Regions from separate parts of the Homo sapiens genome. Here regions 1 and 3 are each linked to region 2. Evidence: fine-mapped expression QTL. A gene starts in region 2. Each other region holds a variant in brackets. All regions are shown on one strand. Distances are from middle to middle. Region 1 overlaps RCC1L (RCC1 like). Region 2 holds the start of RCC1L (RCC1 like). Region 3 overlaps CASTOR2 (cytosolic arginine sensor for mTORC1 subunit 2).

Region 1 (4,192 bases), 32 kb after region 2:
CTGGAGCTTGTTTTTGAGACAGAGTCTCGCTCTGTCACCCAGGCTGGAGTGTAGTGGTGCAATCTTGGCTCACTGCAGCCTCTACCTCCTGGGTTCAAGCAATTCTCCCACCTCAGCCTCCCGAGTAGCTGGGATTACAGGCGCCTGCCACCACGCCTGGCTGGTCTCAAACTTCTGACCTCACGTGATCCGCCTGCCTTGGCCTCCCAAAGTGCTGAGATTATGGGCGTGAGCTACAGCGCCCAGCCCCTGGAGCTTCTTAGTGAGCCATAGCAGTGGCTCCCAGGAGAGATCTCTGAACACCTGGCCTGGGGGCATGGAGCCTAGTGGGGTTAGGGTCAGAGGGGAGCAGCCCCTGTAGGGCGTGCAGGTTCCAGGGATGCACACAGGCCCATGTTCCTGCCCGACATGCCCTCTCAGGCTGATGTGAATGGTGATGGCTGCCATTGACTGGAGGGAGTTGGGATGGCCTTGTCCTCATGACCACACGCAGTTGTCCTGATGGACCTGCTGGGGAGGCCTAAGTGCCCCCATTCCCAGAGGGTAGGGAGCCGAGGCTCAGAGAAGCTGTCTCCTACTGAGACAAGCTGTCTCCTGCTGAGACAAGCTGTCTCCTACTGAGTCTCCTACTGAGAGGCAGGGCCGGGTCGGCCAACACCAGCGCCTGTCTCCTCCGGGTGCGCCACCCCCACCCATGGTATGCTGGATCTTATTTTTCAGGTGACGATGCCTGGGGAGCCTGTGGACGTGGCATGTGGCGTGGACCACATGGTGACCCTGGCCAAGTCATTCATCTAAACCTCCCTCACCTGCTTGGGCGGCCCCGTCCCGGGAACCACTGGCACTCCTTGGCAGAGGCCAGCGCGTGGCCAGCCCCCCGGGGTTCTTGGATGGTGGTGGCGGAGGACCCTGCGTGCAGTGTGACGCTCTGTCCTGAATCCCTTAGCGGGTACCTACCAGGAGGATCAGGGCAAGGTCCCTCTCCAGCTGCAGGTGAGGCCTGCGGAACTCAGCTTGGATGGCAGCCTTTGGTGGGCCGCTGTGGCCCGCACGTCTCTGTTCTCTCCAAGTAACATGCGACGGTGTCTGGTGTCACGTCTCGCCTGAGAAGCCCGTCTTAGGAAAGCTTAGCTTGAACACAGTGCTCGGGAGGTTTCTGCTCTGTCTGTCATGGCAGTCTCTTGGTTTGTGTCTGGCCAAGGCCATGCGTGTGCCTCGGACCGAGCCCCAGCTTAGGCGAGGGAGTCAGGCTGGCTTCGGCCCTCGGTTTTCATTCAGGCCACCCTGCTCATGGCCCTTCCTGGCCGCCTGCCACACCGCAAGCTCGCTGGGGGGACACTAGAAGCACCGTGGCCTGGGATTCCATCTGGAGCTGTCCGCAGGCACCAGCCCCAGCCTCCCACCACGCTCACTGCCTGGCTTGGAAAAGTTAAGAAGCCCCTCAGGAAGAGAATCGAGGCCAAGTTCCTCTGCGCCGAGGGCCCCGAGCATATCCGCCAAGGCTCAGCTGCAGTGCCAGGCGGAGGAGGAAGATCCAGAAATTGTGAACAATGTTTGATTTAGTAGCGTGACTTGCCTTTCCCTTTAAAAACATCTTTTACAAATCTGTCTTGGAATAAAGTCTATTTTCTGCCTTTTGGTTTTTAAGCTCTGAAGAGATCTTCTTAAATCTTACTTGATCATTTAGAGTTTTGCTTTTATAAACAAGCCTTTTGATACAGAGGCAGAAGCCAGTGAAAAATACTTTTATAGAGATGAGGTCTTTTTATTTTATTTTTTTATAGAGACAAGGTCTTGCTATGTTGCTTAGGCTCCAACCCCTGGCCTCAAGCCATCCTCCTGCTTAGGCCTCCCAGAGTGCTAGGATTATAGGTGTGAGCTACCGTGCTCAACTGAAAAATAGTTTAGAAGACAGTCCTACTCGACAAATATTTTCTTTTTCTTTTCTTTTTTTTTTTTTTTTTTTGAGACAGAGTCTTGCTTTGTTGCCCAGGCTGGAGTGCAGCAACATGATCTCAGCTCACTGCAACCTCCACCCCCTGGGTTCAAATTATTCTCCTGCCTCAGCCTCCCGAGTAGCTGCGACTACAAGTGTGCGCCACCACACCCAGCTAATTTGTTTTCTGTATTTTTAGTAGAGATGGGGTTTCACCACGTTGGCCAGGCTGGTCTTGAACTCCTGACCTCAGACGATCTGCCTGCCTCGGTCCCCCAAAGTGCTGGGATTACAGGTGTGAGCCACCGCACCCAGCCATACTTGACAAATATTTTCTGAACAGATTCTACTCCCGCAGTTCAGTTGGGAGAAAATACTTGGTACTCATGTCACAGGCTGGACTCCCATGCCCTGTCTGCCTTTACCTCGTTCCTTTAATGCGTTCACAACAGATACTTGTCATGTGCCCCATCGGTGCCCAGTACTGTCCTCATGCTGGGGCATGTGGTGACAAAAATCCCCGCACCGTGAAGCTTACATTCTAGGGAGGGAAACGGGAAAAATGAGAAGCAGCATATGAAGTGGTTCTGTGGGCCGT[T/C]GAGAGAAAGCAGGAGGAGAGGATGGGATCTCGGGAGGGCTACCCTTTATTTATTTAGTTAGTTAGTTAGTTAGTTAGTTATGAGATGGAGTCTCGCTCTGTCGCCCAGGCTGGAGTGCAGTGGCGCGATCTCGGCTCACTGCAACCTCCGCCTCCCGGTTCAAGCAATTCTATCTCAGCCTCCCGAGTAGCTGGGATTATAGGTGCCTGCCACCACACCCAGTTAATTTTTGTATTTTTAGTAGAGATGGGGTTTTGCCGTGTTGGCCAGGCTGTTCTCGAACTCCTGACCTCAGGTGATCCGCTCACCTTGGCCTCCCAAAGTGCTGGGATTACAGGCGTGAGCCACCGTGCCCGGCCTAGAGCTGCACTTTAAAGTGGAATGGTCACCCAGCCAGCAGTGTCCTTGCTGTGACCTGCGGCCATGAGAACCAGCCACTCAGATATCTAGGGGAGGGGCCCTTCACCTGGGCTGCGAACCCCATTCTTAGGTTTATTACAGTCAAATTTTCTCATAAACTTGAAATAGAAATTGAAAACCGTGTGTCATTTTTCCTTCCTGAAACCGTTACTGGGGCTGGGTCTAAAGTCGCCTCTGCAGTGAAGCAGGGTAATCCGACCTCAGTGAAACTCAAGCCTAGATCAAACTCACGTATTGATCTAGAGATGGTAAGTGCCCCTGGAGGTCAGACCCGGGTCACACTGGGCGGGGTTCGGGATGGCAGGTGAGGATGGGGGATGGAGGGTCTCTGGAGAAGGTGAGTTTTTAATAAACCTCCCACCCTAATGGCAACCAAGATACAGATCTAGTAATGATCTTTTTTGTTTGTTTGTTTGAGACAGAGTCTCTCTCTGTTGCCCAGGCTGGAGTGCAGTGGCATGATCTCAGCTCACTGCAACCTCCGCCTCCTGGGTTCAAGCAATTCTCTTGCCTTAGCCTCCCGAGTAGCCGGGCCTAGAGGCATGCACTACCACGCCCGGCTAATTTTTGTATTTTTAGTAGAGACGGAATTTTGTTATGTTGGCCAGGCTGGTCTCGAACTCCTGACCTCCAGAGATCCGCCCACCTCGGCCTCCAAAAGTGCTGGGATGACAGGCGTGAGCCACCAGGTCCAGCCCCAGTAATGATCTTGACTTTGGACATAGCAAGCAGTGTAGAAGCAGGGACGTCCTTCGGTTTGTCTTTTCTTTCTTCCAGCTGGGCTCTGTCTGCCCAGGAGGGCTGCTTGGCTGTGCCTTCTGTGGGTCACGAGGGCTCCTGGTTGGAGCTCTTCTGCTGTGGACCAAGCCTTCTCCCCAGCTGTCACCTGTGCCTGCATCTCAGCGTCTGTCCTCTCTTTCCCTAATGCCGCCCCTCCCCCAACCCCAGCATTTGACACACACGTCCATAGAAACCCTACTATGCCATTAGCTCGGTTGCTAGGCTTGATCATCGTGTTCCTGCAAAAAATCAGTGTTTGCAAGCTCCCGTCTCCTCTCGCTTTAGTGAGCACGTGAATGGCACCCGCGATGGAGTGAGCCTTGTACCAACCCCATGTGTCCCCAGGCCATTCTCCATACACACCAACTCTGTCCCTTTCTCTCTGATGGGGTCAGTAACCAAGGTCAGAGAGGCACCCGGGTGGAAGACGTAGCGTGTCCAGGTTGTCAGCCTTGAG
Region 2 (4,192 bases):
GTCTCTACTAAAAATACAAAAAATTAACCGGGTGTGGTTGTGCACGCCTGTAATCCCAACTACTTGGGAGGCTGAGGCAGGAGAATTGCTTGAACCCAGGAGGCGGAGGTTGCAGTGAGTCGAGATCATGTCACCGTACTCAAGCCTGGGTGATAGACTGAGACTCTGTCTCAAAAAACAAACAAACGAACAAAAAAACAGACGGCACGCTTGACACAGCAGCTATGAGTTGGACCATGCACTTGCCTAAATGTATGGTGGTCCCCTGTCCCCTACCACAGTCCATCTTTTTTTATTTTTTGAGACGGAGCCTCGCTCTGTCGCCAGGCTGGAGTGCAGTGGTGCGATCTCGGCTCACTGCAACCTCCGCCTCCCGGGTTCAAGCTATTCTCCTGCCTCAGCCTCCCAAGTAGCTGAGACTACAGTGCGTTCCACCACGCCCAGCTAATTTTTGTATTTTCAGTAGAAATGGGGTTTTACTATGTTGGCCAGGATGGTCTCCATCTCTTGACCTCGTGATGTGCCTGCCTTGCCCTCCCAAAATGCTGGGATTACAGGTGTGAGCCACTATGCCTGGCCAATCCATCAGTTTTTTTAGGAGCCAAACAGGTGAACTCAATGGGGAGCTACCCATTGGATAGGAATCACCACCCCTCTGAATCTTTTACATCTTTGAAGGTGGCACTAGCATCTACAATTCCATGTGGCAAACAGTGTGTGTTCTGATTGAATACTGGCTGGGTCGAGACAGGGTAAGGGGACCGATGTGAATGGCTAAGTTTATCTATCCCAAATGGTGGCAGGGAACTTACTACCAGGCGGGTCCATAGACACATTTATTTTTACTTTTATATTTACATTTAATTTAATTTTTTTTTTTTTCAGAGACAGGGTCTCACTCTGCTGTCCTGGCTGGAGTGCAGTGGTGCAATCATGGCTCACTGCAGCCTCGAACTCCTGGGCTTAAGCCATCCACCTGCCTCAGTCTCCTAAGTAGCTGGCACCACAGGTGCACACCATCACGCCGAGCTAATTTTTAAATTTTTTTGTAGAGAAAGGGTCCCACTATTTGCCCAGGCTGGTCTCGAACTCTCAAGTGATTCTCCCACCTTTGTCTTCCAAAGTGCTGGAAGACTGGGTCCGCCGCAGAGAATACATTTCATAGCCCGGGAGACTGGTGGTTTCAGTGCCTTCATGAATTTTACTCCCTGTAGTAAGAGGCTTTCCATGAGCAGTCTTGTGGTCACCACATTTTATTAGTGGGTTTTCCCCAGTCATCTTCCATAAAACAGGCCTGCACAGGCTGGGGGCGGTGGCTTATGCCTGTAATCCCAGCACTTTGGGAGGCCGAGGTGGGTGGATCACTGGAGGTCAGGAGTTCAAAACCAACCTGGCCAACATCGTGAAACCCTGTCTCTACTAAAAATACAAAAATTAGCCGGGCGTGGTGGCGTACGCCTGTGGTCCCAGCTACTCGGGAGGCTGAGACACGAGAGTCACTTGAACCCAGGAGGGGGAGGTTGCAGTGAGCCTGTCGATAGGTTTGAGGGGACCTGGGCAGGGGATGCGAAGGCAGCAGGGAATCGTCCACTCCAGCTCGCTGTCGCTGGAGGACGGCCTGGGGCGGCGTGGGAGCAGACCGGAGCGGAGACGGCTGCAGCAAGGCCAGGTAAGAAATGTCGCGGGGCAATAGCAAGGGAGCAAAACAGGACACGCAGTTTCGCTAAGGGACAAGAATCCTAATCCCGCCCCTAACCCCGCCCCTCACCATCGCCACGCCACGCCTCCCTGAGCCTTGGGCTGCCGTCAGCGCCTTTGCCTTCAACCAGGAGTAAAAGTGGCCGTAGCCTCTTCCGGCGAGGACTGGTGTTAAGGGTCACGCAAGATGGCGGCGCCCAGAGGCTGCTGAGGCGCGGAACGGAGGATGGCGCTGGTGGCGTTGGTGGCTGGGGCTCGGCTGGGGCGGCGGCTGAGCGGGCCGGGGCTGGGGCGAGGGCACTGGACGGCGGCCGGGCGCTCCCGGAGCCGGCGCGAAGCGGCAGAAGCCGAGGCGGAGGTGCCCGTGGTCCAGTACGTGGGCGAGCGCGCTGCCCGCGCCGATCGCGTCTTCGTGTGGGGCTTCAGCTTCTCGGGGGCGCTGGGCGTGCCTTCCTTTGTGGTGCCCAGCTCCGGGCCCGGGCCCCGCGCCGGCGCCCGACCGCGCCGCAGGATCCAGCCCGTGCCCTATCGCCTGGAGCTGGACCAAAAGGTGCAGGCCGCGGCTTCCTCCTTCTCTCCTTCTCTCTCTTCCGCGCTCCCGGCCTCCCTCGACCTGTTCGGCTCTCTTCAAGAAGTTGGCTCCTCTGGGTGGACAGACTTCCGGCAGGACGACCCTCGAGCTGGCTGCAAGCCCAGGAGGGGAAGGCGTTAGGGGTGGCCATCAACATTTATTGGGTGGCAGTGCCAGATGTTGTGCCGGGTCGTGTCATTCGCTTAGCACCCAGTGAGTCGACAGTTATTCCCAATTACAGGGAAGGAAGGGGAGGCCCAGAGAGGTTGAGGCCCGAGGCCCCACCGCTGCTAGCTGTTTATATGCGGTGGAATTCTCACTCAGGCCAGCGTGACTGCAGGAGTTCTGATGTTAGGAAAGCAAAATTCAAAAGTCCATTGAAAATGTATACCAGCTGAGGTGTTTCAATGAACAACTCAGAAAGGGGATTTTTTTGTTTTAATTTATTTTTTAGAGACAGGGTCTCGCTCTGTCGCTCAGGCTGGAGTGCAGTGGTGTCATCATAGCTCACTGCAGCCTCGACCTCCTGGGCTCAAGAGATCGTCCTGCCACCTAGCCCGGCAAATTTTTGTATTTTTAGTAGAGATGGGGTTTCGCCATGTTTGCTAGACTGGTCTTGAACTGAACTCAAGCGATCCGCCCGCCTTGGCCTCCCAAAGTGCTGGGATTACAGGCGTGAGCCACTGTGCCTGGCTGAAAGAGGATTGATTTTAAAATCAAACCATCTTTGGTCTATATCCAACCTCACTGGAAGCCCCGGTTTTCTCATCGGGTCAGTGAAGGGAGGATTGATGAGAGTGTAGTTAAAACACCCAACAAAGACCTTGGGGTTGTCACTGTGTTAAATTCACAGTAGCTGTAGTACTGAGTTTTCCTTTTCATGGTAATAGCCTGAGTACGTAACGGTGTAGTGTCAGTGAAAAGCATGCAGTCAAGTTACTCAACCTTTAGAAGCCACACTTTCTCATCTGCCTTATACTACTGCTAACAGCAATAAGAAATAGAAAATATAATAACAAAAGCAATAACAAAAACTAAACAACAACAACAAAAAGCATACAATATAGGCCAGGTGCGGTAGCTCATGCCTGTAATTTCAGCACTTTGGGAGGCCAAGGCAGGAGGATCATTTGAGTTCAAGAGTTTGAGACCAGCCTGGGTAACACAGTGAGAACTCATCTCTCTGTCTCTCTCTCTCTCCATATATATATATATATATATATATATATATGTATATGTATATGTATATGTATAAATTTAAAATACAAAATAGAGTACAAAATATAGGTTTGTTTTTTTTTTTTGATCTGGCTCTGTTGCCCAGGCTGGAGTACAGTGGCGTGATCATGGGTCACTGCAGCCTCGACCTCCTGGATTCAAGTGATCCTCCTGCTTCAGCCTCCCATGTAGCTGGGACCAAGCTTAAATTTTGATTTTTTCATAGAGACAGGTTGTCACTTTGTTGCCTAGGCTCAAAATATAGCTCTTACCTTGAGATGGGTACTATTCCCTATAAGGGCTTTAGCTATATTAACTCGTTTAGTCTTCACAACAGCTTAGTGAGAGAGATGGTACTATTATCATCTTTACTTTTTAGAGAAGGAGAAACAGATATAGAGGTAAAGTAATCTATCTCAGATCACACAGTTGGTAAGGATGGGGCCAGGATTCAAAACTAAGGAGATCTGTCAACTTACCTACCGCGCTAAGAGATGGTGGTGTTTTTTGTTTTGTTTTGTTTTGTTTTGTTTTTGAGACAGAGTCTTATTCTGTCACCCAGGCTGGAATGCAGTGGCGCCATCTTGGCTCACTGCAACCTCTGCCTCCCAGGTTCAAGCACTTCTCCTGCCTCCCGAGTAGCTGAGATTACAGGCGCACGCCACCATGCCTAGCTAATTTTTGTATTTTTAGTAGAGATGGGGT
Region 3 (4,174 bases), 50 kb after region 2:
ACCACTCAGCTGGCCTGCCACCTGGCTGTCCACCTCCCCATGGCCCTCGGGTTCCCTCACCCCCTCCGGTGCTCAGATAGAACTACAGCTGGTTGGTGGGAGTTCCCATGTGGGGTGCCAGCGGCTCCAGCGTCTTGTAACAGATCTCTGCTCCTAGCTTCCCTTCAGAAGAGAGGGCCCAGGCTCCTGTGACATCTCCCGATTCCCACTGCCTGTCCCTGGAGCCACAGAGCACCAGCTTAGTGACACAGAGCCTCCAGGCTCCCTTGACAGAACTCAAACAGGTCCTATCCCTGCCAAACAGAAACTACCGCCAAGAGCACCCTGGGTGCAAATACATTAAATAAAAAACTAAAACAAAGTATGGTTTTCTCTATTAAGGCTCAGTTAAGCTGCCTCCTGGGTCAAGTACTCATGAATGCCACAGCCCCCAGCCAAGGGGCGGGTGGGCAGGCAGGTGACTTGGGGGCAGAGGAGGGAGGAGGACGGCGGGGAGTCCTATGCTGGTCTAGTTGTCTGTTGGGGAGGTGGGACACCACCTAAGAAACCTCAGGCCTGGAAAGCCAGGGATGTCCCTACTGGGGGAAGCTGAGGCTCTACCTGCCCAAGTCGGGTCCAGGGAGAGCCGAGGGGACAGGAGCTGGTGCTCCAGGCTGGTGGGTCTCCTGGGACCCTCCCTCCTCCCCCAAGGACTGAGTGCTTGTGGGGGAGGGTCTGGACAGGGCCCTCTTGGCAGTCTTGCTGGGAGTCGGGCCCAGGCCCTGTGGTTGGCAGGCGAGGTACAGGGGGAGTCTGGGTCCTTCCCAGCTCGGGGATCCCACCTGGGTTCCTGTCTGAGCCTCACCAGCCCCGATGACCTGAGGGGGCCACGCTGGCCTCCACTCCGAGGGAACCAGCCCTGAGCTGATGGAAGCAGAGACCAGTGACCACAGTACTCACCCCCAAACCCTCCAGGGCACCCCAAACTCGGCCCCACCCCGCCAGCCCCAGCCCTGCAAGGTGACATGACAGCTGGCACACCGGTGTCTCGCAGGAGGGACCGGCTTCCCTCGGCATCTGCCCCTGGCCGTGGGTGAGGCCGGATGAGAAGGCGGATCAGCTCACAAGCTCCCTGGGCCTCCGAAAGCATTTTCCGGGGTGGGGGAGGTAGGGAAGAGAAAGGTCGTTCTCTGGAGGGTCGGGGGGCTCCGGGAAGGCAGGAGGGCATGGAGAGGCCTTGGCGTGGGCCCCTGCCCTGGAGGGATTGGCAATCGAGGGAGTCTCCCACAGAGGCCCCTTCCTCAGGGTCCCCAGGCTGATTTTCCAGTCTGTAGAGAAATACTGCAAGATCAATCTTCAGGGTTAGGGCTGGGCCCGGGCGGCGGCAGGGAGGAGCAGAAGAGACCCTTCTAGTGCTTCTCTGCTTGGCTGACCTTCAGGGCACTGATGACACCATTGATGTTCTCTTCGGGGACCTGTGCAGGGGTAGAGGAGGCAGATGCCTGCCCGTGAGCCCAGGAACCTGCTTCCCCACCCCGGCCCTGCCCTGGAGGGGTCTGGCGCTGGACACTCACAAGTGCATGATCAAACTTGAAAGTACTGATGTAGTAGGCTGGGATGTCTGCAGCAGCCAAGGGCTCTGAGATCTGGGCCACGATGCCACACTCATCTAGAACAGGAGAGACCGTCCTTAGCCTCTG[T/C]GTAACCTGGCTACCCTTGCCTGTGTGGCTCTTCAGCCTCTACCCTCTGTGGGCAATGCCTACCCTGCACCCACCATCCTCCTAGAGAATTCCCATCTGCTATCCCTTTTATTTTTTTTGAGATGGAGTCTCGCTCCATCGCCCAGGCTGGAGTGCACTGGCGTGAGCTCACTTCACTACAACCTCCACCTCCTGAGTTCAAGCAATCCTCGTGCCTCAGCCTCCCAAATAGCTGGGATTATAGGCGTGTACCACCATGCCCAGCTAATTTTTTTGTATTTTTAGTAGAGATGGGGTTTCACCATGTTGGCCAGGCTGGTATCGAACTGCTGTACTCAAATGATCCACCCACCTCCACATCCCAAAGTGCTGGAATTACAGGCGTGAGCCACCGTGCCTGGCCTCCCACTGGCCATCCCTCTTGAAGGCTTAACCCAGATGTCCCCCAACCAGGAGCCTTCTCTGGTCGCTGGCCAGTGAAATAGTTTGGCTTTGTGTTCCTGCCCAAATCCTCCAATTGTAATCTCAAGTATTGGAGGTGGGGCCTGGTGCAAGATGACTGGATTATGAGGGTGGATTCCTCATGAATGGTTTAGCCTCATCCTCTTGGTACTGTTCTCGTGACAGTAAGTCCTCACGAGATCTGGCTATTTAAAAGTGTGGCACCTTGGCTGGGAGTGGTGGCTCACGCCTGTAATCCCAGCACTTTGGGAGGCCGAGGCGGGTGGATCACTTGAGGTCAGGAGTTCGAGACCAGCCTGGCCAACATGGTGAAACCCCATCTCTACTAAAACTACAAGAATTAGCCGGGCGTGGTGGCACGTGCCTATAGTCCCAGCTACTTGGGAGGCTGAACCCAGGAGGCGAAGACTGCGCCATTGCACTTCAGCCTGGGCAACAGAGCAAGATCCGGTCTCAAAAAAAAAAAAAACAAAAAACAAAAAGAAAAAAAAAATGCTATCCACCAAAGACGTTGTCTGGACAACTGTGGAAACAGAGGAAAGACTAAGTCTTAGGGAATGACTGAAAATTTTCTCCTGTGGAATCCTGTCATTGTGGTTATATAGGAGAAAGTGTTTCTTCTTTTTTTTTTCTTTTTTTGAGGTGGACTCTCGCTCTGTCGCCCAGGCTGGAGTGCAGTGGCGCCATCTCGGCTTGCTGCAAGCTCCGCCTCCCAGGTTCATGCCATTCTCCTGCCTCAGCCTCCCAAGTAGCTGGGACTACAGGCGCCTGCCACCACGACCGGCTAATTTTTTGTATTTTTAGTAGAGACAGGGTTTTGCTGTGTTAGCCAGGATGATCTCGATCTCCTGACCTTGTGATCCTCCTGCCTCGGCCTCCCAAAGTGCTGGGATTACAGGCGTAAGCCACCTTGCCCGGTGCTTCTTCCCAGGATGGAAAAGGCGAGGCATTTAGGAGTAAAGTGTTGGGTGTCAGACTCTCTGGGAGATATGTGACAATTACATGTATTTACGTGAAGAAAACATGTTAAAAAATTGCCAGCAGTTATTATCTTTGAGCTGTGGAAATAAGGAGTGATTTTTTTTCTCTTTAATTTTTATCACAGCCCCAATTTATTCTTTTTTAAATTAAATTTATTATTATTTTTTGAGACAGAGTCTTGCTCTGTTGCCCAGGCAGGAGTGCAATGGAGCGATCTTGGCTCATCGCAACCTCTGCTTCCTGGGTTCAAGCGATTCTCCCATCTCAGCCTCCTGAGTAGCTGGGATTACAGGCGCACGCCACTGTGCCTGGCCAATTTTTTGTATTGTTAGTAGACATGGGGTTTCGTCATATTGGCCAGGCTGGTACTCCTGACCTCAGGTGATCCACCTGCATCGGCCTCCCAAAGACCTGGGATTACAGGCACGAGCTAACTCGCCCAGCCTCTTTTTTTATTTTTAGAGGCAAAGATTTGCTCTGTCACCCAGGTTGGAGTACAATGGCATGATCATGGCTCACTGTAGCCTTGAACTCTTAGGCTCAAGTAATCCTCCTGCCTCAGCCTCCTGAGTAGCTGGGATTACAGGCGCCAGCCACCATGCCCAGCTAATTTTAAAAATTTTGGTAGAGACAGGGCCTCGCTATGTTTCCCAGGCTGGTACAGAACTCCTGGGCTCAATGGATCTTTCCACCTCGGCCTCCCAAAGTGCTGGGATTACAAGCACGAGCCACCGCGCCCAGCTGCTTAATTTTCTAATAATAAGCAACATATTAAATTTCAAGAGGGGGCAAAATAAAAGCACTCCGATTGAAGCCTGCTCCGCACTTCCCCAAGAGGCCTGTGTACAGCTGCCACACACCAGTGAGCAACAGAAATTTCAGGCTCCCCAAGCCTCAGTCTCCCCATCTGTACCCCCCAGCAGGGGCCGAGTCACTGCGGACAACGTATGTGAATGGGCTCAGCAATGCCAGCTCCCTCAATTCCCCATGTAATCCCCCCAGGACTCACCAAACCCCAGGGGCTGTCCTCCAATCCGGACCATCTTCCAGAG

The links.
Region 1: its variant is fine-mapped to the expression of RCC1L in whole blood (INTERVAL, PIP 0.96).
Region 3: its variant is fine-mapped to the expression of RCC1L in whole blood (INTERVAL, PIP above 0.99).

What each region holds. Positions count from the first base shown.
Region 1 is chr7:75,039,638-75,043,829 of GRCh38, reverse strand. RCC1L (RCC1 like) reads left to right here. Exons shown (of 11, transcript NM_030798.5): 11 at 721-1,647. The coding sequence ends at 798. Among named protein-coding and RNA genes, the nearest start is that of RCC1L, 32 kb to the left of the region's middle. The variant T/C (reference allele first, on the strand shown) is at 2,535.
Region 2 is chr7:75,071,470-75,075,661 of GRCh38, reverse strand. RCC1L (RCC1 like) reads left to right here and starts at 1,860. Exons shown (of 11, transcript NM_030798.5): 1 at 1,860-2,248. The coding sequence starts at 1,925. RefSeq lists a silencer at 1,955-2,174.
Region 3 is chr7:75,021,914-75,026,087 of GRCh38, reverse strand. CASTOR2 (cytosolic arginine sensor for mTORC1 subunit 2) reads right to left here. Exons shown (of 9, transcript NM_001145064.3): 7 at 4,132-4,174; 8 at 1,554-1,648; 9 at 1-1,454. The coding sequence ends at 1,389. Among named protein-coding and RNA genes, the nearest start is that of RCC1L, 50 kb to the left of the region's middle. The variant T/C (reference allele first, on the strand shown) is at 1,680.